Linked DNA regions of Homo sapiens: all the other regions are linked to region 1. Evidence: fine-mapped expression QTL. A gene starts in region 1. Each other region holds a variant in brackets. All regions are shown on one strand. Distances are between the middles of the regions.

Region 1 (9,272 bases):
AGTGGCTCACGCCTATAATCCTAGCACTTTGGGAGGCCGAAGGGGGTGGATCATTTGAGCCCAGGAGTTCGAGACCTGCCTGGGGGAACATGGCAAAACCCTGTCTCTATAAAAAATACAAAAATTAGCCAGGTGTAGAGGAGGGTGTCTGTAGTCCCAGCTACTCAGGGGGCTGAGGTGGGAGGATCACCTGAGCGTGGGAGGTTGAGGCAGCGGTGAGCTGTGATTGTGCCACTGCACTCCAGCCTGGGTGACAGTGTGAGACCCTGTCTCAAAAAAAAAAAAAAGAAAAGAAAAAGAAACAAAGACTGGTATAGCTGGAGGAGTTTGAGAGGAGCAGGTGGCAGGAGGCCGGGTGTTGCAGGGCCTCGTAGGCTATATTAAGTCAGGGGCTGGGACCTAATTCTGAGCACCGCAGGGAGGTGGTGAGCAGGAAACACAGGTGAATGGGAGGATTCACTGAGAAACTCAGAGCAGACAGTGGGTACTGGGTAAGTCTGAAGTACCCGTATTACTGTGTCATCATCCAGCCTGGCACCCCAAGAGCTCCTTCCCCTCCACTTTGCTCACCCGTCTTCCGGGCCCTGAACCCAGTCACCTCCTGCCACCTTCTTTCCACCGTCTCCCGGGCAGGGCTTCAGACCCACAGATCCTAACTTGTCTGCGCTCAGCCTGAGAGCAGGCCCGGGCCAAGCCAGGCAGGGGCCACAACTCCCCAGACAGGGGGAAATGGGCCTAAGGGATGGGGGGGTGGTCCATCTCTGCCCCTTCCAGCTTCTACCCTGCAGACAGACCTGCAGCCTGCCCTCCTTCCCTCCGGGAATGTCCAGGGCACACTCAAAACCCCATCCTGTGCCGGCTGCAGGTACGGAACAAGTAGGCTAGTGTCAGGTGACAGAGCAGCTGGCTGCGTGGAGGAGGGCTGAGGGACCGCCAGGAAGGGGAGGCTCCTGCAGTTCAGCTGGCAGCCTCCCCAGTGAGGAAATCCAGCTGAGGCAGGAAACAGGTATCTCAGCGACTTCCCTCCTAGGCCCTGGAAAACACCTTAATCACCACCGAGGCTCCCTCAAGACGCCTGTCCCCTGCAGGGCCGCCCTAAAGGGGTCAGCAGGCCAAGGCCTGCCGAGTCACCCAGGCCCAGCCCCCTCCTCCAGCAAGCCTCCTCACCTCCCAACAGCTGAAATTACACCCACACTTAATCACAGATCAGCTTCCTGTGGTCCTGTCCCCCGTCCCGGGGAAGCCTGGAGCTCCCTAAGGCCCATCTCACCCTGCTGCTGTGCCCAACCCTTCCCCATAAGCCACTGGCTCCGGACCAAACTGAAGGGCAGATGAGAGCAAGGGTAGCAGGCAAAGAGGGTCCAAGGTGTGCTGGGAGCCTGGGCTAGGAATTGATCTCATTTTTGACTTGCAACAAACTCCTCAACCCCATTGTACAGATTTGGAAACTAAGGCTCAGAGAGAGGAACTCGCCCCAGATCACACAGCCAGAAACCGCAGCCCAGAGACTCATACTTGGGTCTGTAAGACTTCAGAGACAGGCCAGGCATGATGGCTTATGCCTGTCATCCCAACACTTTAGGAGACCGAGGCGAGAGGATCGCTTGAGGCCAGGAGTTTGAGACCAGCCTGGGCAACAAAGTGTGATGCCCTCTTTTTTTTTTTTTGAGACAGAGTCTTGCTCTGTCGCCCAGGCTGGAGTGCAGTGGCGCGATCTCGGCTCACTGCAAGCTCCGCCTCCCGGGTTAACGCCATTCTCCTGCCTCAGCCTCCGGAGTAGCTGGGACTACAGGTACGTGCCACCATGCCTGGCTAACTTTTTGCATTTTTAGTAGAGACAGGGTTTCACTATGCTGGCCAGGCTGATCTTGAACTCCTGACCTCATGATCCGCTCGCCTCGGCCTCCCAAAGTCCTGGGATTACTGGCGTGTGCCACCGCGCCTGGCCCCGAAAAACTTTTTATTGTTTGTTTGTTTTGAGGCGGAGTCTCACTCTGTCACCCAGGCTGGAGTGCAATGGTGTGGTCTCAGCTCACTGCAACCTCCGCCTCCTGGGTTCAAGCGATTCTCCTGCCTCAGCCTCCCGAGTAGTTGGGATTACAAGCATGCGCCACCACACCCGTCTAATTTTTGTATTTTCAGTACAGATGGGGTTTCACTATGTTGGCCAGGCTGGTCTCAAACTCCTGACCTCGTGATCCGCCCACCGTGGCCTCCCAAAGTGCTGGGATTACAGGCATGAGCCACCGCGCCTGGCCTGAAAAACTTTTTAAAAAGAATTTTATAAAGAGACTTCAGGGGCCAAGCTCTTTCCAGCCCACCACCAGCAGCCTGGGGTGGGACAGCGACCCTCCATGTGTTGCTGAGAAGGCTCTCTAATCCCACAGGATTGGAGCTGCCTGTTTATTTGTCTAAATTACCGCCCACCAGCCTGTGAGTGCTGGGAAGGCACAGACAGGGCCTGTCCTTGCTGGTCCAACCCACCCCAGCCCCTAGCACCACACGAGGTTCACTGGTTCACTGGCACACAGTAGGTGCATGGCAAATATCTGCCCAAAGAATGAACCTCTGTACTCCCAGTGACTGCCATGGAATGTCGCTCAGTGATGATCTGTTGAATGAACAAGTGAATGAGATGATCTGCCACGGTCCAGGAATGTCTGTGGAAATTCCTCATGCACACAGCAAACAACTCCACCCACCGCCATCCTACCGCACCCGGGCATGGAGGAGCCCCTCATCGGGGGCAGAGCTGGGGGAAGGTCAGGAAAGACTGTTGGGCCTCGGAAAACATCCCACGTGCTAGGTTGGTGCGTTGGGAAAAGTAAAAGTCAGTGCCAGGAGTGCAAGTTCAGGTCAAGACTAGGGAGCTACTGGATGGCCCTGCTGAATATTTTGGGGTGAGAGGCTGAAACAGGAGGACGACAGAGGAGGCTGCCCAGAGTGGGGATGGGGGAGGAGAAGTGCTGGGTGGGTGGGGCAAGAGCAGTGAGGAGCCAGGTCTGGGTGGGGGCTTGACGAGTGACTCAGGAGGGTAGAGGTGCGATGAAGCCAGGAAGGTGAGGCCAGGCAGGCAGTTCCTGGGTAAACACCAGCCTGGTTAGAAAAGTCCCTCTCTTGGCTCAGAGAACAGGGAGGCAGGTATGGGGACTGCCTAGGAGCACCTCGGAGAGAGTGGGGGTGGCTCTGTGGCTCCCCACGGTAGGCTCGGCTCCCCAGATGTGCCCCCACCCACATCTGCCACTAGCTCCCTGCCCACCGACCCCACCCAGTCCTCCTCAAGTTCACTCAGGTCCTCAGGGCCTCTGCTGGCCAAGTGCCTTCTAAGCCTCGGGATTCCTGACCGTAGAATTCCCTTTTCCTCCACCTAAGCTCAGAGTAGGGGACTAGACTGCAAGGGCAGGCCTCTCCCTGCCTCTTGGAGACCTGGGAAGAGGAAAGCTGGGGAACTCGGGTCCCCCAAGGGTGCACTGCATCCCCGCACCACGCACTTTGCAGCTCATTCCACGCAGTCCAGCAACGCCCTGCAGCTATGCATTTTGAGGCCGTGCATTTTGAGTTCCCTTGACCCACGTGGGGCTGGCCTCAGAGAGGTTAACTAGCGTGCCCCAGGTCACACAGTTACTCAGTGAAAGGCAGGGATTGATTCAACTCTTCGGCTGTATGACTCCAAGGCCCGTGGGTGTTCCACACAAGCTTCAGTTCTGTCCCAAAAGTTTTGCTTGTGCCTACCTGGGTCCAAGCTCCCCAAGGTGATAGACGGTGTGGTAAAGTTTCAGCGAGACTCATAGGGTCCCCATCACCACTGAGTGGCCGTTCTGCCAAGCTGGCGCAGAAGGGTTCCCTCGTCCTGCCAAGTTCCCACCCTGCTCAAAGTTTCCCCTCCTGGTCCCCAGGAATGGTAGGCCGGACCATGCCCAGCGAGACTCCAGCACTCGGCAACGTGGCCGAGAGACCCACGGGCTCCCACACGGGCCAGCCCCGCCCCCAGCCCCACGAAGGGTCCTGACTGGTGGCCCCCCTGGATTAGCCCCATGCCGCAGGGTGGCGCCGGCCCGGGGTCCCCGGCGGGCGCCGCCGTCCCGGGCCAGAGTCCCCGCCGCGCAGCCTTGGGCGCCCCAGCCAAGTTGGCGGGAGGCGGCGAGCGGGACCGGGGCGCCCCTAGCCCCTCCGCCCCCGCCCCCCGCCCCTCTGCCCCGCACACTCACCGCCAGCAGCCGCCCGTGCAGCAGCAGCGCCAGCAGCAGCGCGCCCGCCGCCCGCCACCCCATGGCCCGGCCCGCGCCGCTCTCTCGCTCGCTCGCTCCGCGCCGCCCGCTCCGCGCCGCCCGCAGCCGCCCGCTCGCCGGCCAGCTCGGGACAGCGCGGCCCTCTCCCCACCGCCCCCTTTCCTCCCCGCCCGCCCCGCCCCCGCAGCGCCGGCCCCGCCCCCGAACCGCCCCTCCCCGGAGCGCCAGGCCCCGCCCACGGACCGCCCCCGGGCCGCGGGCTCTGCTCGCCCCAGCCGGCCGCGCAGCCTACTAGGCCTTTGTCTGGGCCCCCAGCCCCCTCCGCGCGGGCCGCGGCCCGGCCCGGCTCCCCGCCAAACCCGGCCTGGAGTATGGGATGGGACGGGGCGGGGGACCGGGGGCCCGGGCCCGGGCATGGGATGGGGCCGCCGGGCCAGGCGCTCTCGCCTCCCCGATCCCCGGCTCCCCCGCTTCCCCGCGCGCGCCGCCGACTTCCACGCCCCTGCACGCCCCGCACGGCCGACTCCACTCGCGCAGCTTTTGAAGATCCCGGGATCTCCTTCCCACGCTCACACGCACGCAGCTGCCGCTCCGCGCCACACGTGCACGCCAACTTCCACACCCAAGAACACCTTCACACCATAACTTTACTGCACGAACACACTTGTGCGCTACCCGGGAACACTTTCACACTCTGGACCCAACTCTGAAGTACCAACAATCCTCACCGGCTCACATGCACACTTAACTCGCTTCCAAACTCTCACCTCCACCAGGGACACAGGAGACAGCCCTCACACCACACTCAGCCCCTCACTCACGCATACATCCCAACAAGTCACGGAGCGGGAGGACGCCTTTTCACATAGATTCCTCGCAGGCACGCACATTTCACACACAGGCCCACATCATTGCCTACATGCTTACCAGCTTGTTTTTTTTTTTTTTTTTTTTTTTGAGAAGGAGTCTCGCTCTGTCCCCAGGCTGGAGTGCGGTGGTGGGATCTTGGCTCACTGCAACCTCCGCCTCCGGGTTCAAGCAATTCTCCGGCCTCAGCCTCCTGAATAGCTGGGATTACAGGCGTGCCACCACGCCTGGCTAATTTTTGTATTTTTAATAGAGATGGGGTTTTTACCATGTTGGCCAGGCTGGTCTCGAACTCCTGACCTTGTGATCTGCCCGCCTTGCCCTCCCAAAGTGATGGGATTACAGGCATTGAGCCACCGCACCCAGCCTCAGCCTGTATCTTTTACCTGTTCTCACCCACTAATCACAGTGCCTCATAGTGGGCACTGGGTACTGAACTGAGCTGCCCACCCCACCTGCACCATTTTCCATGTAAATCACTCACACACCAACTTTGAGTCACATAAATCACAGCCCCAGAGCCAGAACCACACCAACTCACACACTCAGGCCCAGACAGACAGACCCTGCCAAAGCCCCATCACAGATGCTCGGGTGGGTGGTAAAATCACAGCCCCATGATCTGTCTCTGACCCAACCGCAGGCAGCAAACAGCACCAAGCCCCCAGACCTATTCACTGCCTACTCTTCAGCTCCCCTCTTCTGCCTGAAATTTCCAGGGCAGCCCGAGGCTGATGGGTGGAGAGGAAAACTATGTGTGTGTAGCTTTGAGGAAAACCTTTTGAGTAATGATAGAGGAGGAGAATAAAACTGAAGTTTCCATTGTTTCCTGTGAGAGTTGCTAGGTTCCAGAAACTCATGGCTGGGTTTGCAGCCAGGAGTGAGGTGAGCTGTGGACAGAAGGAAATGCCCAGCTCACTGGGCGGCACCAGGCCTGGCTCCGGAAGCTATGTTCCCTGTGATAGGGGTCCGCAGGCTCCCAAGCACATTGGGGCCTCTCATCCAGGCATCTGGGGGATTGAAAAAACACTGGCATCCTGACCCCCATCCCAGATAGATCCCCTATCTCCAAAAGATATCTCCAAAATATGCCCTGTGGGGCATATTTCTGTGGGACCAGCTCAGAGTTGTAAAGAACAGAAATTGCATCCACGGTAGTCAGGCCAACTGCCTGGCCCCAACCCAGGCTCCAGGCACAGCACTGAATAAGGTCTATCTCTGATCCGCACAGGGAGATAGGGGTGGACAGAGGAGGGACGCCCAATCTTGGCCCTCAGTAAACTCTTAATCTGATAGAGGTGTGGGGAAGAATAGTCCCTGTCCGGGTATTGTTCTCAGTCTGATAGAGAATCCTGCCTCCACCACCTAGCCGTGCAATCTTGAGCACATGATTCAACTTCCATGTCTCAGTCTCTGCATGTAGAAAATGAGAATAACGTTAAGACGTCTCTCTTAGTGTTGTTATGAGAATTAAGATAAATTAATATATTTCTTTTAAAAAACACAGCCATTTCAGACACTTGGTAAGCATGAAATAAGTGGTAGCCATTTCTCTTATTACTATTTCTGGTGTGCTCCCAATCTAAAGAGAGAGACATGACTTGGCCCTTGGGGAGCTGAGGTCTGATAGAGGAGCAGCCTCCACAGCCACCCCAGGGACCTCCCATTTGAGGGGAGAGTACACCAGGTTTGCACTTGGAAACTCCCTGTCCGATGAGAAAGGCTTCAAAACTCCACTGACTTCAGAGCTGGCAGGTGGCCAGCCCTAGTGGCAGGATTTTTCCAAGGCCTTGCCTGTCCATGGATTTGTCAGCATCCGTGACAAATCGCATTTCATGAGCTGCCTCAGTGTCTGTTCCCTACCTCGGGCCCTTTAAGTACCAGAGCTTTGGCTTCTTGGATGATTTGCTCATGAGCAAAGGGGGAAAAAAAGGGAAACAAGCAACCCTTTGTAGATGTTTGGTCAAGACTAACCCAGAGCTATAAGTCTTCCTTCCTCAAAGGGGTTGAGGAAAGAGATGGTAAGGCCGACTAGGGACTGGAAGGAGCTGGGCTGACACGCAGAAAGCAGGAATATATGGCATGTTGAGAAAGTCTTCCAGGGCGGCTCCAGCAGCGGAGGATTGGTCATCCACCTATTTATTCTGTGTCCTCTCCTTCCCACTAAGGGATTTGCCTGGGTCTGTTTTAGTTTGCAGTCCTTGATATCTTTAGCAAATGCTCTCAAGTTGCTTTGTCTAGAGCCTGGCTATCTCCTCATATGGCTAAGAAGAGGAGCAGGCACAAGGCCTTCTGGGCTTGGCAAAACCTTGGAGGCGCCCATAATCTCACTGTATGTACACAGAGTTCAGGGTGCTGGTCACACTCGAGGAGAGAAACAACTCAAGTCTCATACAAGGTTCCCTGGGCACGGAGAGACTACAACAGCTTGGATAGGCAGAAATAGTCAAACAGCTTGACTTCTGAGAATAGGTGTTGGGGGTTCTGGAACCAGCAGCTGGAGTTTGTGGCTTACCTGTCCACTCCTCCAAATTCAGTAGGACTCATCTTCTGGCTTCCACTCCCATTCCAAATCTTTTCTCTGCCTGAGAGCTTATCATTCATCTTAATCACATTCCTTTGTCCATTCATTCATTCATTCAGGGCTGCAGTGGACAGTTGCGCAGGTTGTTCACTGAACAAAGGTGTGCAGCCAAGTGGGTAAATAGGAACTGTAATGGGCCCTGTTGTGGGGCTACATCTGCCCAGAATGGGTACTTTTTTTTTTCTTTTTGAGACAGAATCTTGCTCTGTTGCCCAGGTTGGAGTGCAGTGGCACGATCTCAACTCACTGCAACCTCTGCCTCCTGGGTTCAAGCGATTCTCCTGCCTCAGCCTCCCAAGTAGCTGGGATTACAGGCACATGCCACCACACCTGGCTAATTTTTTGTATTTTTAGTAGAGACAGGGTTTCATCATGTTGGCCAGGCTGGTCTCGAACTCCTGACCTCAAGTGATCCACCCGTCTCGGCCTCCCAAAGTGCTGGGATTACAGGCGTGAGCCACTGCACCCGGCCCAGAATGGGTACTTTTTGCTGATATGAGTGAAGGCACTGTAAGGCTAGCTGTGGCCCTATATTCATTCAATAGTGAAACTAAACACTGCCCACGAGAGTTTCTATGTCCATGTGGGAAAACAAATGCTAATAGAGTAACAATATGTCCTTGGGTGAAAATGAAGAGTCAGAAATTGGTGTGAAAGAGAATTGAGATGGAGGAGAAAAAACAAGAAGATAGTACTGAAGAAGAGGAGGAAGAGGAGGCAGGAGGTGGGTCTAAGCAGGCAGCAAAAGTTCCCATGGAGAGGGCGGGGACCCCACAAGGCCTGGCATGATCTAGTCCTGCCCATCAATCCAGCCACAGCCCTTCCCCACCATAGTCTTTGCAGATGCTGTTCCCTCTCCTAAGTGCTTTTCCCAGTTAACACCCATCCCCCTTCACTCTACTCTCCCTTAAGATTGAGTCCAAACATCACATGACCACAGAAATCTTCTCTGACCTCCCAAGCGAGGTCGTGTTCCCCACCACACTTTCCCACAGCGCCCCCCCCGCCATGCTTTTCTTGTAGCATTTTTGACCATTGTAATTATTTGGAAGATCATTTAATATTATGAGGCATAATGAAGGCAGAGGGCATGAAGGTCTTGTTTCTGTCTTGGTCCCAATTATATCCCCTGTGAAGAGCACAGTGTGTGGCACAGAGTTGGCATTTGGATAATTGTTACTTAAATGAAAGAACAAGACATTAGTTCAAACGTGGCACACAGTGTAAATGTCCCTGTTCTGGTTTGTGCTTGGAACAAAGATAAACCCTGGGGAGCAGGCAAGGCAGTACATTTTATTATTCCCCTCCCTTTCCAGCTGGGAAAACTGAGGCCCAGGGGATGAAGTGGCTTGCCCAGGTCATGCAGTCAGTAAGAGGTAGAACCAGGATTCATGTCCATGTCGGTCTGATTCTACAAACTCCCATTCTCAACCACACCCATTCTGCCTCCCTGTGGGCTGTTCTCAACTCTGGCCAGGCACAAGTGCGCTTCTCCCAGCTCAGGCAGAAGCGTGAATCTTCTGAAAGCTCTTGTATTTGACCCCCTGCCCCAACTTGATGTTTCCCCACTACCCTTCATCATTATCAATTGC
Region 2 (8,132 bases), 110 kb before region 1:
CACCCTGCCAGAGCAGGAGGCCACTGGCTGTGCTGGTCCGAACCTCCAGCTCGATGGTCTCGGGCACCTCGGGCAGGCTGCGGAGGAAGAGCGGGTGAGGGGACAGAAGTCCCAGATTCCCATCCTCCCCATTAGGCCCATGGGCCCTTCCAATGCCAGTCTCACCTCCTGGAGAAGACATGGCCAGGGAAGGCGAGGAAGCCATCATCGTGGAAATAGGCTCCGTACTGCCCAGGGGCATCTGTGGGAGAGAGGAGGGTGGTGCCATACCTGCTGCATCAGGCATCAAAATCCCCCGTCAGTTCCCCTGACCCCCACCTCCACGCCAACATGCAGGACTAGGGGGCTCCGAGCCTGCAGTCCCTGGGGACCCACGGGGGCTGCCAACAGAATTCAGGGAGCCTATGACCTTGGATGGGAAAGCATTACACCTCAATTTCACTCACTTCTCACTGAAATTGAGCAGTTCTTTCAATGAGATGTAGGCAAGAAACCAAAGTAGCAGTGGTAGGACCTGCAACTTTGTTACTAGTATTTGCTTATCACATGACAGTAGCTGCAAATATTTCAAAATATCATTTACACATATTGCTGCTTTGAAATTGTGGTAGCTACTGAGATCACCAGATCTTGTTATTTGATGTGTTAATAAAGAAGCACATATATAGCAAGTCAGGAAACTTAAAACATGTTTTGATTACTTTACTTCAGCATAATTGCTTTCCTTAAATCAATGTATTTTATTTTATTTTATTTTGTGTAGTCAACAGGATCCGTGTCGGGTGACCCGCCATTCTACTTGCCAAATTCTGTCTGGCTTTAGCCCTGAAAGTCCCACATCCCAAGAAACCCCTCAGTCCGGAGCTACTGGGACCGTTGGTCACCTTGGACTGTGGCAATAAATGGTTCAGAGCCTTGGTGTTCTCTCCATCTTACAGAAGAGCAGGCAGGCTTGGGCGAGTGACTGGCCCAGGATGTCCATACTGTGTGTGGCTCCACACCCCCCCAGCCCTATCTGCTCATGACCCATCCCACAGGCCGGCACTGGCCACAGTAGCTCTGGCAGGGGACAAGAGTAGGGGACCCTCTGCTACCCTCCACCAAATGATGAGGAGAACGGCTGACATTTACCTAACACCTATGATGTGGCTGTGCGGGGAGCGTCCCATCCAGCTACAGACACCACTGCATTTAACTCAATCCTTACAACAACCCTATGAATGAATATTATATATAGATAATTTTTATTTTATTTATTTATTTTTGAGATGGAGTCTCGCTCCGTGGCCCAGGCTGGAGTGCAGTGGCACAATCTTGGTTCACTACAACCCCCACCTCCCAGGTTCAAGCAATTCTCCTGCCTTGGCCTCCCGAGTAGCTGGGACTACAGGTGTGCACCACCACACCTGGCTAATTTTTGTATTTTTAGTAGAGATGGGGTTTCGCCATGTTGGCCAGGCTGGTCTCGAACTGATCTCAGGTGATCCACCCACCTTGTCCTCCCAAAGTGCTGGGATGACAGGTGTGAGCCACCGCACCCAGCCTTATTTTTTATTTTTTTGAGACAGGGTCTCAGTCTGTTGCCCAGGCTAGAGTGCAGTGACACAATTGTAGCTCACTACAGCCTCGACCTCCTGGGCTCAAGTGATCCTTCTGCCTCAGCTGGGACCATAGCCATGTGCCACCACACCCAGCTAATTCTTAAATTTCTTGTAGAGATGAGGTCTCCCTGTGTTGCCCAGGTTGATCTTGAACTCCTGGGCTCAAGCAATCCTCCTGCCTGTCTCCTGAGTAGCTGGGACCATAGATGAGCACCACCATGCCCAGCTACTTTTTGTATTTTTTTGTAGAGACAGGATTTCGCCTTGTTGCCCAGGCTGGTCTGGAACTCCTGGGCTCAAGCAATCTGCCCGCCACAGCCTCCCAAAGTGCTGGGATTATAGGCGTGAGTCACCATACCCAGCTGAATATAGTATTTTTTTTTGAGAGGGAGTTTCGCTCTTGTTGCCCAGGCTGGAGTGCAATGGTGCATGCAATCTTGGCTCATGGCAACCTCCACCTCCCAGGTTCAAGCGATTCTCCTGCCTCAGCCTCCGGAGTAGCTGGGATTATAGGCATGTGCCACCACGCCCAGCTAATTTTGTATTTTTAGTAGAGATGGGGTTTCTCCATGTTGGTCAGGCTGGTCTCAAATTCCCAACCTCAGGTGATCTGCCCGCTTCAGCTTCCTAAAGTGCTGGGATTACAGGCGTGAGCCAGTGTGCCCGGCCAGCTGAACATAATATTAACAACAGCTAACATTCTGTACTGACTCTGTACCACACATTGTTCTAGGCATTTAAAATGCACTAAGTGGCCGGGCGCGGTGGCTTATGCCTGTAATCCAGCACTTTAGGACGGTGGCTTACGCCTGTAATCCAGCACTTTAGGAAGCCAAGGGGGGCGGATCACCTGAGGTCAGGAGTTAGAGACAGGCCTGGCCAACATGGTGAAACCCCATCCCTACAAAAAATACAAAAATTAGCGGGGTGTGGTGGCAGGCACCTGTAATCCCAGCTACTCAGGAAGCTGAGGCAGCAGAATCGCTTGAGTCTGGGAGGCGGGGGTTGCAGTGAGCCGAGATTGTGCCACTGCACTCCAGCCTGGGTGAAAGAGCAAGACTCCACCTTAAAAAAAAATGCACTAAGTAATTTTACTCTCACATAAAATTTTATCCAAATCTTTAGGGAAAGATGTTACTCATCTCCATTTTATATGAGGCACAGAGAGGTTAAGCGACTCACCCAAAGTTCCACAGCTAGTAAGTGGGAGAGCTAGGATTTGAACCCAAGCAGGCTGGCTCCAAGTCTATACTCTTACCCACTATACCACTGCCTCGCCTATTATATTAGTGATACATAAGAAGAGATGTGTCTGTAAAGGGGTTAGCACAGTGTCCGTAAACATTCAATCAGCATTCACTCTTCACTGTTTCCTTAGCTTTTCAGTAGACGGTGGAATTCTTGGGAATGAGGGTCTTGCTTTATGCATCTTATATTTACTGCTCTCAGGGCAAGGATGGGCAACAATAGTTTGTTGACTGAATACATGAATACAGAGGAGGAAACTGAGGTCAGAGTGGTTTCAAAGGCCTGCCCAAGGTCACCCAGCCAGTAAGTGTGGGGCAGGCCCTAGCTCCACATGGCTGTGGTCTTCATTCTGTCTCTCTGCCCAGCAAGCTCCTCATATAAAGCTGTTTTGCTTGCAGGCCAGAATTGAGGGTGTGGGGTAACTGGAAGAGTGAGCTGAGCTGAAGCTGGGGAGGAGGCCATGGCAAGTACTCACCATTGCCCCCGCTGCCTTCAAGATGCCAGTCGGACTCTGCTATGCCATGTCCAGAGCCTATGGAGAAGGGCAGGGTCCAGTTGGTGGGCATAGACACCCGTGGGTACTATGTCGAGCTCCGGGGCCCCAAGACAGAGATGAAGTGGAGAGAAGCCAGGCCTGGGTACCTTGTTGGCAGCGTGGGCCAGAGAAGCCAGGGAGGCAGAGGCAGCGGGTGCCCTGGCAGGTGCCCCCATGCAGACAGGGTTCACGGAGCTGGCAGGGGTTCTCCTCGTGCTCACACAGGTCTCCTGTGGGCCAGGGCAGAGGCGAGTGGGTGGGTGGGCATGGGCTGGAGGTGTCGCTGACCACCTGTGCCCCTCCCCTCCGGTGCCCTGGGCAGGCTTTCCCACCTTTGAATCCATCTCGACACAGGCACTGGAACTCATACTCGCCAGCGGGCATGCACGTGGCACCATGTTGGCAAGGCTGGCGCTCACATGGGGAGCTATCATAGCATTGCCCGATGCCCTGGCTGCCTAGGAAACTGTAGGTGAGGTCCAGCCGTTTGCCATTCACTGACACCTGTGGGGACAGGGACACCGAGGGACTAAAGGGGCCTGGGAGGCAGAGACCCAGGTGTACCAGCAGG[G/A]AGAAGAATGCAGCAGAGGGGAGCTGGGAGCCCACATTGGGCCCTGAGTGGTAGCATGGATTCTCGGTGTGGGGAGGGAGGCGCAGGAGTTGAGTGCCTACTGTGTGCTAGAAACATTCATCCGTCAGTGCAGACAATCCTCTGCCCAACCTTTCAAAGTAGGTGTGATCATGCCCATTTTACAGAGGAGGAAACTGAGGCTCAGAGGTACAGTGTCCTGGCCCAGGGCCCGTGGGTGGCTGCAGGTGGAGGGGCCCAATGCCAAGGTGCTTGGAGAGCCGAGGGGGACACAAGGCTTGGCACCCCTCCCCTCCCGCTTGTCCCGAGGAGGCTGCTCTTACCTCGCCCACACAGCCGCGGAAGTGAGCGCTCATGTTGGTGGCCGGGGACAGTGGCACGGAAGGCTCCACACCCCCCAGGTAGAGCAGGGTGTGCAGGTTGAGGCCCTGGCTCTTGCCGGGCGAGGAGCGCAGCACAGGGCGTCCACCATTCACCCGCAGGCTGCCGTCCTTGTTGAGACGCTCTGCAGACACACGGTGCCAGCGGCCCAGGGCCAGCGGCTCGGCGCTCCGCAGAACGGCCAGCCCTGGGGAGGATGCCAGGCAGGGTTGGGCACATGGGGGCACACGGGGCTCCCTGCCCTCTCCACCACAAACAGGGCCCTGAGCAGATGGGGAATGCCCTACAGCCTTCTGTATTCCAGATGAGGAGCCCATGGCTCAGAGAGGGCTAGGGATTGGCCTCAAGTGACACAGAGACGAAATGCACAGGAAGAGGGGACTTGCCCTGATCCCTGCATTTATCCTCCCATGCCTCCCTGGGGCTTGAAGAGCCGAGGGGGGCACAAGGCTTGGTGTGCAGAGCCCCGCATTTGGTGCTGGGTGCTTACCTGACCCCAACTCATAGCGGAACTCCAGGTGGCCGCCCACCATCGCCAGGGACACGAAGTCCTCCACAGGCCCGCTCTTCCCCCCGCTGAACAGCAGGACCCCGTCAGGGGCGAGTGGCTTGAACTCCACGTCCAGGCGTAGCTCGTGGTGTGTGTTGGTGAGGGCGGGCAGTGCCAGGTAGGAGCCAGCACCCGACAGCGAGGGGGTGGTCACTGTCACACCTGCAGCAGCCACAGCTCAGCTGAGGCAGTGGGGATCCTGGACCCTCGGGTGGGGTCCAGCTACTCTGCCTTCCTCTGGGACCCTTGCCTGCCTCACTCTCCAGGCCCAGAGGCTCAGGACCAGTTGGCACCAGCTGCAGTGGCACAGGAGCCCCCCTGCCCTTGCACACGGGGCTGGGAGGAGCTCCAATATGACAGGGGTCCTCTTTGGGGGCCCTCACTCAATAAGGGGCTCAGGCTGGGCAGACATGTGGCCAGGTGACTTCGAGATCCTCTGGCTTGGGAATCGTTTTATCATCCGTAGGGCCCATCATGGCCTCAGAGTGCCCCACCCAGCCTCCCCAGCTGACACTAGGACCCTGGGGGTCTCAGGCCTGGCTCCCCTCACCTTCCTCACACCGCAACCCCGAGCGGCCCAGGTGGCAGCGGCAGGTGTAGCCTCGACCGTCAGGCCGGTTCACACAGGTGGCGTCGGGCCCACAGGCCTCTGGGGGGCACATAGGCCAGTGAAAAGACACGGAGGTGACTCTGGAGGGAGGGGGGTCCTGATGCCAGAGGTCTGCCCATCACACCCCGGGGGGCTGGGCTAGTGAGGGCCAGGCCAGCCTCCTGGGAGGCCTTGGAGGAGGGAACTGAGCAGAGCAAGGCGGGAGCCAGAAGAGGCCACAGGGAGGACTGCAGGGGAAGCAGTCGAGGGACTCTGTGTGTCTGCAGGTTCTTCAGAGACTGGACAGTGTTGGAGGGGGAGCACCTGGTGGCGGGTAATGGGGTGGGCACCTGGGTAATAAGATGGGACTGGGGGCCGGGCGTGGGGGCTCATGCCTGTAATCCCAGCACTTTGGGAGGCCGAGGTGGGTGGATCACCTGAGGTCAGGAGTTCAAGACCAGCCATGGCCAACGTAGTGAAACCCCGCCTCTACTAAAAATGCAAAAAATTTAGCCAGGGGTGGTGGCAGACACTTGTATTCCCAGCTACTCAGGAGGCTGAGGCAGGAGAATCGCTTGAACCCGGGAGGTGGAAGTTGCAGTGAGCTGAGATCGTGCCACTGCACTCCAGCCTGGGCAACAAGAGCGAAACTTCGTCTCAAAAAAAAAAAAAAAAAAAAAAGATGGGCTGGGGGTGGGGGAGTGCCTGGGTGGCGGGGTAGTGGTAAGAATTTGGTCAGCAGGGCTGGAGGAGGGGAAGCAGCAGTGATGGGGTGAGGGCCTTCGGGTAGCAGAGATGGGGGATGGGTACATGGGAGGAGTGGAGAGTGCTCAGGTGAGAGTGGGGGGTGTGGAAGTGCCCCAGTGGTTGAGATGGTGGTGGATATGGGGAGGCAGCAAAGGGAAGAGGCAGGCCCTGGGGCGACAGCGACTGGCGGTCGGGGTGCGTACCTGGATGGCAGTGCAGGGCCTGCGAGTGCTCACAGCGGCTCCCGGTGAAGCCAGCTGGGCAGACGCACACGTAGCTGCTGCTCTCAGAGTCATGGCACTGACCGCCATTCTGCAAAGCAGCCCCCAGAAGTAAGGCCGAGAACATTCAGTACCCCCCATAATCCCCACAGGGGCCAGCCATGGCTAGGGGTGGAGGCCACGGCAGCCAGGTGGTGTGTGGGGTGTGGGGTCACCTGGCAGGGCCGGTCCCGACAGGTGGGGCAGTGGGAGATGCCGTGCGCCGTGAGGTTGAGGTCATGGAAGACGATCTCCTCGCCCTGGATGCGCAGCTCCCGGACACAGCCTGGGAGGTGAGTGGGCAGGATGAGCACAGGGCAGGGTGTCCCAGCCCATACCCTGAGGTGCCCTCCCAGGCTCTCCAGGGCTCTTCCAGCCAGCCAGGTAAGGCCCAGCCTCAGCTGGAGGTGGGGAGGGGGCTCACCTATGAAGCCGCTGCTCAGCCCCGCCTTGGGGATGGCACCATAGTCAGGATAGCCACCCAGGTAGAGTTCCTCGTTCAGATCCAGGCCCTGGAACTTGCCCTGGGGAGGTGGGGAAGTCAGGAATGGCAACAGAGGCTGGGCAAGGGCGGGATGAGGGCTGGAAGTAGCAGTATGGGGTTGGGTCTCACCTGGGAGGTCCCATTGACCGGGGCCAGGTCACCCACAATCAGGGAGCCCTGGGTGAGGCTGCGCAGCAGGGTCACGGTGTGGAAATGGCCCAGGGCCAGTGGTGTGGGATGGCGGATGGTGGCCATGCCTGAGCCTGCATCGAACCTGCTCCGTGGGGCAGGCCGGGGCAGGAGAGAGTGGATAGGGGGTTTGTAAGAAGGGCTAGGGGCCCAGTTGGGTAGAGGGGTCCCAGAGGAGGGATGTCACCACTTCCTGCAGTCCCAGCCCTGGGGCTGTTCCCGTTCCTGTCCCTGTCTTGTCGTCCCTCCCCGTGACCCATCCCCTGGATCTTCTCTCCCCACATCCTTTTGCTGGGAGCTTTCCCAGAGCAGCCCACAGGGACCCCAGGCTCAGCGCCCTGCAGCCTAGCACCTGGCCTCCTTGTTCCTCTGAGGACTCCTCTCTCCCTGTGATCACCTTGTTTCTCTGTTTATGGCTTGTTTATTCTTCCCCAGTGAGAATACACCTCTTCCCACAAGAGCCAGAATTTGGTCTGTTTTGTTTTACCTGTATCAGTGCCTGGCACACATGGGGTGGTCAGCAAATAACTGATGCATGCATGCATGAATGAATGAATGAATGAATGAATCCTGGCCTGCAGCAGTCCCAAGTCTGAGGTTGCACCCTCCTCCACCTGACTGGCATACTATTCCTACTCTAGCAGATTGGGTGGTCACCAAGGGTAACGGCCACATTTTCTCCTTCCTCCAGATCTCCTTTGTATAATGGAGCCCAGGGTAGCACTTGCCAGACCAAAGCCCTGTGTCCAGTCCCCCTGTAGGTGGGGAGGCTGGGGGTCTCACCGGAACTCGGGCCTTCCCCCCACGAGGCCGAAGGAGATGAAGTCGGGCTGCCGGTTGGCCAGGTTGGTGGGGCTCCCTGGGACTCGCTTCTGCCCATTGTACAGCAGCATCCCTGGGTGGGCACCACTGTGTAAGGGGCCCCCTTCCAGCCACAGGCTCCCTGTCCTCCCCCACCC
Region 3 (10,924 bases), 79 kb after region 1:
TGAGCCGAGATTACGCCACTGCACTCCAGCCTGGGTGACAGAGCAAGACTCCATCTCAAAAACAAAAACAAACAAACAAACAAAAAAACAGTGATGATTTATAGACCATTTAATCCCTTGGTTCCCTGACCCATGTTAAAAAAATATATATATAAGGCCAGGCACGGTGGCTCATGCCTGTAATCCAAGCACTTTGGTAGGCCAAGGCAGGTGGATCACAAGGTCAGGAGTTCGAGACCAGCCTGGCCAATATGGTGAAACCCTGTCTCTACAAAAATATAAAAAAATTGGCCAGGCGTGGTAGTGCGTCGCTGTAATCTCAGCTACTTGGGAGGTTGAGGCAGAAGAATTGCTCGAACTCAGGAGGCAGAGGTTGCAGTAAGCTGAGATTGTGCCACTGCCCTCCAGCCTCGGTGACAGAGCAAGACTCTGTCTTAAAAAAAAAAAAAGGCCGGGCGTGGTGGCTCACACCCGTAATCCCACCACTTTGGGAGGCCGAGGTGGGCAGATCACGAGGTCAGGAGATTGAGACCATCCTGGCTAACACGGTGAAATCCCATCTGTACTAAAAATACAAAAATTAGCCAGGCATGGTGGCGTACGCCTGTAGTCCCAGCTACTTGGGAGGCTGAGGAAGGAGAATGGCATGAACCCAAGAAGTGGAGGTTGCAGTGAGTTGAGATCGTGCACTCCAGCCTGGGCAACAGAGTGAGACTCTGTCTCAAAAAAAACCAAAAAAACAAAAAAAATATAGATTTTGTTTATATATATACACATACATACGTATATATATATACACAAACACATACGTATATATACACACAAATACGTATATATATACACACACACATATACACACACATGCATATACATATATATATACATACACATCCCATCTAAATTTGTGCTGGGCATTGTAAAGAGAACCTTAGTTAACAATTTAATCAAGAACCCCCCCATGAGGTAAGTTCTATCCCTACTACATAGAGGAGGAAACTGAGGCTCAGAGAGGTCAATCCCTCTCCCAGGGTCACACAGCAGGGCTGGAAGTTGAACCCAGTTTCATCTGACTCCAGAACCTGTGCTCCTAAATTGACTATTCTGTCTGCCCCCCCAACTTTTCCAGACCATAGCAAGCCACTAGAACCAAGGCCCAGCTGGCAGTGCTGATCGATCCCACATCCTGAATAAAGAATAAAGATCTCTCAGAAAATTCCAAGTTGAATCTTTCTTTCTTTGTTGACTCACCTCTTCCCCTCTGGCCTGTTCCTAAAATCTTAGATCTCATATGCAGAGACAGGACCAGGTCCAACCCTTTCATACGAAGATGAGGGAAAAATGATGCTGGGAGAGAAGGGAGTTGCTGTGCGGTGACCTGACCATCCTGGTTTGCCTGGAACTTCAGGAGTGAAGACACTGGACATTTAATGCTAAAACTGGGAAGGTACCAGGAAAAATGGGACAAGTTGGTCGCCTTAGTATATAGTCGCACATAAGTCAGTAGCTTTTCAATGCAGGCATATAAACATGGTAAAACTCTGCAGATAAACAGACCCTGCCAGCCCTTGAGGAGGCTCATGGTAGAGTGGGAAGGACAATGTGTGTTCTGCTTCCACTGATGGGCTGGGGGCTTTGGTATTCGTCCATTCAACAAACACTTATTCCTTGTTTTAGAGGAGGGCTCAGAGGGGTAAGGAGACATGGTTCCTGCCCTGAAGTGGCTCATTATTTAAAGATAGCTCTCTTAGTCTGTGTTCATACTGCTATAAAGAACTGCCCGAGACTGGGTAGTTTATAAAGGAAAGAAGTGTAATTGACTCACAGTTCAGCATGGCTGGGGAGGCCTCAGGAAACTTAAAATCATGGTGGAAGATGAAGGGGAAGCAAGGGACCTTCTTTACAAGGTGGAAGGAAGGAAAATTGCCTAGCAAAGGGGGAAGAGCCCCTTATAAAACCATCAGATCTGGCGAGAACTCACTCACTATCATGAGAACAGCATGGGGGAACCGCCCTATGATTCAATTACCTTCTCCCTTGACACATGGCGATTATGGGGATTACAATTCAAGGTGAGATTTGGGTGGGGACACAAAGCCTAACCATGTCATGAGCATATCACGGTCATTCATTAAACATGTATTAGGTACCTGCCTTGTGGCAAGTTCAGGGCTGGAAAAACAGAGACAAGTCAGGCAACCCTAGGAAGAGCCCTTACTGAAGGGGGGAGAAGACACACACACAGGTACACAGGTATACACACACAGGTACACACAATGCTGCGCACGAGCCCAGAGCCAGCAAACAGTTGAGTTTTGAAAGGAAGAACGCTGGCCAGGTGCAGTAGCTCATGCTTGTAATCCTAGCACTTTGGGAGGCTGAGGCAGGTAGATCAACTGAGGTCACGAGTTCGAAACTCCTTCTTAAAAAAAAAAAAGAATGCTGTTACACAGACAAAAGCAACATAAAACAAGGGAGTCTGGCTGGGCCTGGTGGTTCATACTTGTAATCCCAGCACTTTGGGAGGCCAGGGTGGGTGGATCACTTGAGCCCACGAGTTTGAGACCAGCCTGGGAAACATGGTAAAACCCCATCTCTACAAAAAACATAAAAATTAGCCAGGTGTGGTGGTGGGTACTTGTAGTCCCAGCTACTCGGAAGACTGAGGTGGAAGAATCACTTGAGTCCAGGAGGCAGAAGCTGCAGTGAGCTGAGACTGTGACACTGTACTCCAGCCTGGGCACAGAGCAAGACTCTGTCTGAAAAAAAAAAAAAAAAAAAATTCAACGGAATCTCTTTCCTCATATTTCTCTTTGAACACCATGAAAGGGAAGATTGTCCCAGCAAGGACACACACAAATGACTTTGATATTAATGGCCCATTTGTAGCCTCCCTTTATACTTTCAGCTACAACTGAAAAAGATGCAACATAGAGAATAATATAGCAGAGACTCAGATAGGTATCCTCCCTTCAGAATTAACAAATTTCACATTTTGCTTCATATTCTAAAAAATATTAATTACAATCATTCACTAAAAAAAATCAAGAGATCTATAATTTTTTAGATCCAGCCTGTCACCCAGGCTGGAGGGCAGTGGCACAATCCTGGCTCGCTGCAACCTCCGCCTCCCAGGTTCAAGCGATTCTCCTGCCTCAGCCTTC[C/T]GAGTAGCTGGGACTACAGTCACCCACCACCATGCCTGGCTTATTTTTTTTGTTTTTGAGTTGGAGTCTCGCTCTGTCGCCCAGGCTGGAGTATAATGGTGTAATCTCAGCTCACTGCAACCTCTGCCTCCCGGGTTCAAGCGATTCTCCTGCCTCAGCCTCCCAAGCAGCTGGGACTACAGGCGCACGCCACCACGCTCAGCTAATTTTTGTATTTTTAGTAGAGATGAGGTTTCTCCATGTTGCCCACGCTGGTCTCGAACTCCTGGCCTCAAGTGATCACCCGCCTTGGTCTCCCAAAGTGCTGGGATTACAGGCGTGAGCCATTGTACCTGGCCAGGGTCTATAAATTTGGAAAGGGGATTTTATATCTTATAAAGGGTTACAGCCTGCATGGTGGCCATGCTGACAGGCTGGGAAGTGTAGCCTCCTGCAAAGAGGAGAAACAGGCACTCCAAAGGAGGAGGGATTGGAGTGGAAGCTTGAAGCTGAAAGAGTTGGCTAAACATACATATTCAACAGGTTATAGAAGGAGCTGTGGGCTGGGCGCAGTGGCTCATGCCTGTCATCCCAGCACTTTGGGAGGCTGAGGTGGGTGGATCACTTGAGGTCAGGAGATCGTGACCAGCCTGGCCAACATAGTGAAACCCTGTCTCTACTAAAAAATACAAAAATTAGGCAGATGTGGTGGCGGGTGCCTGTAATCCCAGCTACTCGGGAGGCTGAGGCAGGAGAATTGCTTGAACCTGGGAGGTAGATGTTGCAATGAGCTGAGATCGTGCCATTGCACTCCAGCCTGGGTGACAAGAGCAAAACTCCGTTTCAAAAAAAAAAGGAGCTGTAAATATTAACAAAGGGGGTCCTGACACATGTGTACTGAACAAACGTATGTTACATGTGTCCCATGTTCACTGTGGGGTGGAGACTTGACATTTAAATGCATTACTGCTGGGCATGGTGGCATGTGCCTATAGTCCCCGCTACTCAGGAGGTGGAGACAGGAGGGTAGCTTGAAGCTAGGAGTTCAAGGCTGCAGTGCACTATGATCGCACCTGTGAATAGCCACTGCACTACAGCCTGGACAACATAGTGAGACCCCACCTCTTTAAGCATGAAAACAAGACCCTGTGCATCAAAAGGTGAAGCAGGAACATGAAGGTACTCAAGTGCAGCTTCTGTAAACCAGACAGAACCAGTCCATGCTCTGTGGTCTTCTTATCAGGAGAAAGTTACTGAAATCTGTGTCCTTACCAATCAAAGCTGGAGTTATGGCTTTGGAGCAGGAGCAGGGGGTCTGTTAGGGTCTGGTGGTGGATGAGCTGCAGTTGTTTTAATATTATTGATCTCAAGGCCAGTGCTTGTTGAGCTGCTAGAGAAAAGGAAAAATCTCAGGCAGCTGGGAACGGTGGCTCATGACTATAATCCCAGCACTTTGGGAGGCTAGGGTAGGAGGACTGGAGGACTGCTTGAACCCAGGGGTTTGAGACCAGCCTGGGCAACATGGCAAAACCCCATCTTAGCTGGGTGGGGTGGCACATGCCTGTAGTCCCAGCTACTTGGGAGGCAGAGGTGGGAAGATCACTTGAGCCCGAGAGGTTGAGGCTGCAGTGAGCTGTGATTGCACCACTGTACCACTCCAGCCTGGGTGACAGATTGAGACCTTGTCTCCAAAAAAAGAAACAAAGAAAGAAAAATCTTGTGGCAGTTAGAACATAGCTTATTTTTTTAAGTGTAGGGGTCTTAACCCTTATCTGGCATGACCTTAGCTCTTGTTATAATTTGGTATCTTACTGCCACTGAGAATCTGTTCTGTCAGTTGTAAGATCTCTATTTTAACATTAATTTTTTTTTGCGGGGGTTGGGGACGGAGTCTCACTCTGTCACCCAGGCTGGAGTGCAATGCCGCGATCTCGGCTCACTGCAACCTCTGCCTCCTGGGTTCAAGTGATTCCCCTGCCTCAGCTTCCTGTGTAGCTGGGATTACAGGCATGGGCCACCATGCCCGGCTAATTTTTTGTATTTTTAGCAGAGATTGGGTTTTGCCATGTTGTCCAGGTTGGTCTCAAACTGCTGACCTCAGGTGATCCGCCCACCTTGGCCTCCCAAAGTGCTGGAATTACAGGCATAAGCCACAGCGCCCGGCCTAATTTTTAACATTAATGCTGGTCAGTTGTGTCTACACCACCAAAAGGAAGTCTAATGAGGTGTGCCTGACTCCCATCCTGTCATGGCTGGGAACTCAAATTTTAAGATTTCTCTGGGGTCCTCTTGGCCAAGAGGAGGCCCATTCAGTGGTTGAGAGGGCTTAGGATTTTATTTCCAGTTTTCACAGTTAAGGTGGAAGCACCTTTGTATTCTTCCCAAAAGTCATCACCATGATGGACAGAGGGTTTTTATCCATCAATTACTGCTTTTGCTTTTGGGCACATAATAGGATACCTCTTTCTTGCCCCCTTAAAGTTAGGTTTGGGCCAGGCACAGTGGCTCACACCTATAATCCCAGCACTTTGGGAGGCCGAGGTGGGAGGATCACTTAAGCCTGGGCGTTCAAGACCAGCCTGGGAGTTCAAGGCCAGCCTGGGCAACATAGAGAGATGCCGTCTCTACAAAAAGTAAAAAATTTGCCAGGCATGGTGGCACATGCCTGTAGTCCCAGCTACTTGTGAGGCTGAGGGTAGGAGGATCGCTTGAGCCAAGGACATTGAGGATTGAGTGAGCCGTGATAATGCCACTGCACTCCAGCCTGAGTGACAGAGGGAGACTCTGTCTTAAAGAAAATAATAATAATAATACATCTATCACCTTGGCTGGATGGGATGGCTCATGCCTGTAATGCCAACACTTTGGAGGCCAACGCAGGAGGATTGCTTGAGCCCAGGAGTTTGATACCAGCTTGGACAACATAATGAGACTTCGTCTCCACTAAAAATAAAATAAAATAATTAGCTAGGCATGGTGGCATCTGACTGTAGTCCCAGCTACTCGGGAGGCTATAGTGGGAGAATTGTTTCAGCCTGGGAGGTTGAGGCTTCAGTGAGTGGTGCTCACATACTGTACTCCAACCTGGGTGACCGTGAGACCCTGTCTATCTGGGGAAAAAAAAAAAAAAGTTGGGTCTGGCCATTAGGCTTGCCAAGGTGAAATATTGAGAGACAAAGCAATTTGTCAGGCTCTCGTTCTCTCTGCTGTGACATCTGGTTGTTGCTGGTCAGCCTGGTCCCAGAGTGAGATGTGAACTGGAGGCTCTGCTAACCCCTGATGGACATGTAGCCCAACCATGAAATAAACTCTGTTATAAGCCACTAAGACTGGGTGTTATTTATCACAGAGGCATGGACCTAACCTATCCTAACTGATAATATGAGTTTGGTGTTTGTCCTTCTATTCTGTGCTGTTATGTTTTTATCATATATATAAATATCCAAAACCAATATATTGCATTGTTTTGGTTTTTAAAAATACATGCACAGCTTCATGCTGTATGGACTGTCCTGCAAATTGCTTCTTTCACTCAATGTTGTGGGTTTTTTTTTTTTTTTTTTTTTTTTTTTTTTTGAGATGGAGTCTCATTCTGTCACCCAGGCCAGAATGCAGTGGTGCCACCTCGGCTCACTGCAACTTCCATCTCCCGGGTTCCAGTGATTCTCCTGGCTCAGCCTCCTGAGTAGCTGGTACTACAGGTGCCCACCACCATGCCCGGCTAATATATATATATATATATATATATATATATATATATATATATATGCACACACACATATATATATATATATATTTAGTAGAGATGGGGTTTCACCATGTTGGCCAGGGTGGTCTCGAATGCCTGACCTCAAGTGATCTGCCTGCTTCAGCCTCCAAAAGTGCTGGGATTATAGGCATGAGCCACCCCGCCTGGCCTTAATGTTGTGTTTTTGAGGTCTATCTCTAGTTCGTTGCTGCTGTTTGTAGCATATCCCATTGCCTAAATTTTTATTATTCTTTATTCCTTCCTCATGGATATTTAAAGCAGAGCTAATTTTTTGTGATTGTGAACAGTGCTTCAGTGGATGTCCTTGGACATGTCTCCTGGTGCACATGTAGGAGAGTTTCTCTAGGGTATATTCCAAGAAATGGACATGCTGACTGGGAGGACATGCTCATTTTCAACTTTACCAATTGCCAAATTGCTCTCCAAAGTGATTGTATCAACAATACTCCTTCAAATTCTCTTTTTTTTTTCTTTTCCCATCCACTGCCCCTACACGTTACAAACTGGCCCCATTTTTCTCCTAAACCACTTCTGGCATCTCAGCCGTCCCCTACAACTCTCTTCCCATCCTTACTCTCACTCCAGCTCTTTTTTTTTTGAGACGGAGTCTCACTCTGTCTCCTAGGCTGGAGTGCAGTGGCGCAATCACGGCTCACTGCAACCTCCACCTCCTGGGTTCAAGTGATTCTCCTGCCTCAGCCTCCCAACTAGCTGAGATTACAAGCACACGCCACTATGCCTGGCTAATTTTTTTGTATTTTTAGTAGAGACGGGATTTCACCATGTTCTCCAGGCTAGTCTTGAACTCCTGACCTCAGGTGATCTGCCTGCAAGCTCCAGGTCTTGCAAAGCCTGAGAACTGGTATGGCAAGGGCAGAGTGAGAGCAGGGAAGAAATGGAGTCAAGCTGAACAGAGACTTCCGCATCATGAGGGTGGTGGGAGGTGGGGAGGAAGTTCTGAAACCACACACATTTATCATTGTTATTGAGTCAGACAGACAGTGCCTGCTGACATGTAACTGTCAGGCGTTGCCAAGGCACAGTAGGGTTGCAAAGGCTGAGTGTCCACTTCCTCCCAATGAGTCAGGAAGAACCCTTGGATAATTCTCCAAAATAGTTTCAGAGTAAAGGGCAGTGGGATATATGTAATTTCATAATGTGGCTGGCCAGCGGGCCCCCAAGGGACCTCTACCCATCCTCAGAGGGAGGCTGGGAGCTGTGATGACCCAGTTCTCTCCACACATGGGCAGCAGAGAGTCAGGGAATCTTGCCTAAAACTGCCAGCATTCAATTTTCCTTTGTTCAAATCTCCAAGTCTTATCAATTCAAGTCTTTTAAAACCCATATAGTCAATAACTTAATTCTTTGAATAATGATTAGAATGTCAAGGCCAATAATTTTTTGCTTTTGATTTCTAAATCATGAAAAGCCAGCAATGCATTTTTCAAGAAGGCACAATGTCAATACTTCAATTCCTTTTTTTTTTGAGACGGAGTCTCACTCTGTCACCCAGGCTGGAGTGCAGTGGTGCAATCTTGGCTCACTGCAACCTCCACCTCCCAGGTTCAAGCGATTCTCCTGCCTCAGCTTCCTGAGTAGCTGGGATTACAGGCCCACCACCACGCCTGGCTAATTTTTGTATTTTTAGTAGAGACGGGGTTTCACCATGTTGGCCAGGCTGGTCTTGAATACCTGACCTTGTGATCTGCCCTCCTCAGCCTCCCAAAGTGCTGGGATTACAGGCATGAGCCACCCCGCCTGGCTGGTTTGTAGAATTCTTTATATATTCTGGACATAGGTCAGATGATTGAGATCAAATGTGAATCTGGGCTGGGCGCAATGGCTTGCATCTGTAATCCTAGCACTTTGGGAGGCCGAGGCAAGTGGATCACTTGAGGTCAGGAGTTCAAGACCAGCCTGGCCAACAGGGTGAAACCCTGTCTCTACTAAAAATTTAAAAATTAGCTGGGTGTAGTGGCACTTACCTGTAGTCTCAGTTACTCAGGAGGTTGAGGCAGGAGAATTGCTTGAACCTGAGAGGTGGAGGTTGCAGTGAGCCAAGATCATGCCACTGCACTCCAGCCTGGGACACAGAGCAAGACTCTCTGTCAAAAAAAAAAAAAAAAAAAAAGGTGAGGCCGGGCGCAGTGGCTCATGCCTGTAATCCCAGCACTTTGGGAGGCCGAGGTGGGCAGGTCACCTGAGGTCGGGAGTTTGAGACCAGCCTGACCAACATAGAGAAACCCCATCTCTACTAAAAATACAAAATTAGCTGGGCGTGGTGGCAAATGCCTGTAATCCCAGCTACTAGGGAGGCTGACGCAGGAGAATCACTTGAACCTGGGAGGTGGAGGTTGCAGTGAGCCGAGATCACACCATTGCACTCCAGCCTGGGCAACAAGAGCAAAACTCCGTCTCAAAAAAAAAAAAAAAAAAAAAAAAGGTGAATCTGTCAAACTTTCTTTTGTCAATTAACATCAAAGACGTAGTGCTATCCCAGCACTTTGGGAGGCTGAATTAGCTGGGCGTGGTGGTGGATGCCTGTAATCCCTGCTACTCTGGAGGCTGAGGCAGGAGAATTGCTTGAACTAGGAAGGTAGAGGTTGCAGTGAGTCAAAATCACGCCACTGCACTCCAGCCTGGGCCAAAGAGCGAGACTGTCTCAAAGAAAAAAAAAAAAAAAGACAGTGCTGAGAAATCTTGTTCTCTGCCTGGCCAACATGGTGAAACCTCATCTCTACTAAAATACAAAAATTTGCTGGGTGTGGTGGCGGGCACCTGTAATCCCAGCTACTCAGGAGGCTGAGGCAGGATAATTGCTTGAACCCAGAAGACGGAGGTTGCAGTAAGCCGAGATCGCACCATTGCACTCCAGCCTGGGCGACAAGAGTGAAACTCCACCTAAAAAAAAAAAAAAAAAAAAAAAAAAAAGGAATCTCATTCTCTAAAATCAGAGACTGTCAGAAACTTTGCTGTTTGAAATCACATCAGTGAGAGCAGAACATCCCACGCTTCTCTAGTGGGTCAGAAGAGCCAGGTTTGATACAGAGACATAGCCTGTATCTACCCAGATGCAGAGCTTCAGATAAAGGGTTTTTGGACACAATAGTCTATATTTGTCTTACCTTTGTGGTGTCCAAGGAAACAAGACTCTGAGTCTGATTCTCAGCCCACGCCAGATGTTAACCCCTTTACACATTGCCAGCTTTGCTTTGCACCTATCAACACGGCTTCATTTCAATTTCACCTAAACTCCAACCTCCTCCAAATCCTATGATAATCCCATTTCTTCTTTTGTTTGGTGAGACCCTCCACAGTTTCTCTGGTGTGTTGTCTCTCTTGCTACATCAAGTTAATAAGCCTAATTTTGTTAAACTACAGCTACATCCCTAGTGGTCTTTTTCAGATTGGATTTGTCATAAAATTCAGGCTTTCTCTTTTCTTTTTTTGCTTTTGAGATGGAGTCTCACTCTGTTGCCCAGGCTGGAGTGCAGTGGTACAATCTTGGCTCACTGCAATCTCTGCCTCCCCGGTTCAAGCAATTCTTCTGCTTCAGCCTCCCAAGTGGCTGGGGTCACAGGCATGCACCACCACACCCAGCTAATTTTCTATTCTTAGTAGAGATGGGTTTTCACCATGTTGCTTAGGCTGGTCTTGAACTCCTGACCTCAGGTGATCCACCCGCCTCAGCCTTCCAAAGTACTGGGATTACAGGCGTAAGCCACCATGCCCAGACCTTTTTTTTTTTTTTTTTTGAGACTGAGTTTTGTTCTATCCGCCCAGGCTGGAGTGCAGTGGCTCAATCACAGTTCACTGCAGCCTCAATCTACTGGGCTAAAGTGATCCTCCCACTTCAGCCTCCCAAGTAGCTGGGACCACAGATGTGCACCACCACACCAGGCTGATTTTTAAAAAATTTCTGTAGAGATGGGTCTCACTATGTTGCCTTGGTTGGTCTCAAACTCCTGGGCTCAAGGGATCCTCCTGCTTCAGCCTCCAAAAGTGTTGGGATTAC

Evidence for each region. PIP is the estimated chance that this variant, and not a neighbour inherited with it, causes the effect. A credible set is the group of variants that fine-mapping cannot tell apart.
Region 2: its variant is the best candidate, but not a certain one, in a credible set for the expression of HSPG2 in whole blood (INTERVAL, PIP 0.63).
Region 3: its variant is the best candidate, but not a certain one, in a credible set for the expression of HSPG2 in whole blood (INTERVAL, PIP 0.51).

Annotation. Positions count from the first base shown.
Region 1 is chr1:21,932,947-21,942,218 of GRCh38, forward strand. It overlaps HSPG2 (heparan sulfate proteoglycan 2), which reads right to left and starts at 4,364. Exons shown (of 97, transcript NM_005529.7): 1 at 4,209-4,364. The coding sequence starts at 4,271. RefSeq lists an enhancer at 2,814-3,655 and a silencer at 4,403-4,752.
Region 2 is chr1:21,824,539-21,832,670 of GRCh38, forward strand. It overlaps LDLRAD2 (low density lipoprotein receptor class A domain containing 2), which reads left to right. Exons shown (of 5, transcript NM_001013693.3): 5 at 1-687. It overlaps HSPG2 (heparan sulfate proteoglycan 2), which reads right to left. Exons shown (of 97, transcript NM_005529.7): 81 at 7,957-8,068; 82 at 7,114-7,258; 83 at 6,925-7,024; 84 at 6,677-6,786; 85 at 6,444-6,552; 86 at 5,455-5,553; 87 at 4,845-5,066; 88 at 4,297-4,541; 89 at 3,717-3,888; 90 at 3,492-3,614; 91 at 3,325-3,381; 92 at 166-241; 93 at 1-77. Among named protein-coding and RNA genes, the nearest start is that of LDLRAD2, 16 kb to the left of the region's middle. The variant G/A (reference allele first, on the strand shown) is at 3,956.
Region 3 is chr1:22,011,324-22,022,247 of GRCh38, forward strand. It overlaps CELA3A (chymotrypsin like elastase 3A), which reads left to right. Exons shown (of 8, transcript NM_005747.5): 8 at 1,127-1,219. The coding sequence ends at 1,144. Among named protein-coding and RNA genes, the nearest start is that of LINC00339, 8.4 kb to the right of the region's middle. RefSeq lists an enhancer at 7,633-7,722 and a silencer at 7,923-7,982. The variant C/T (reference allele first, on the strand shown) is at 3,162.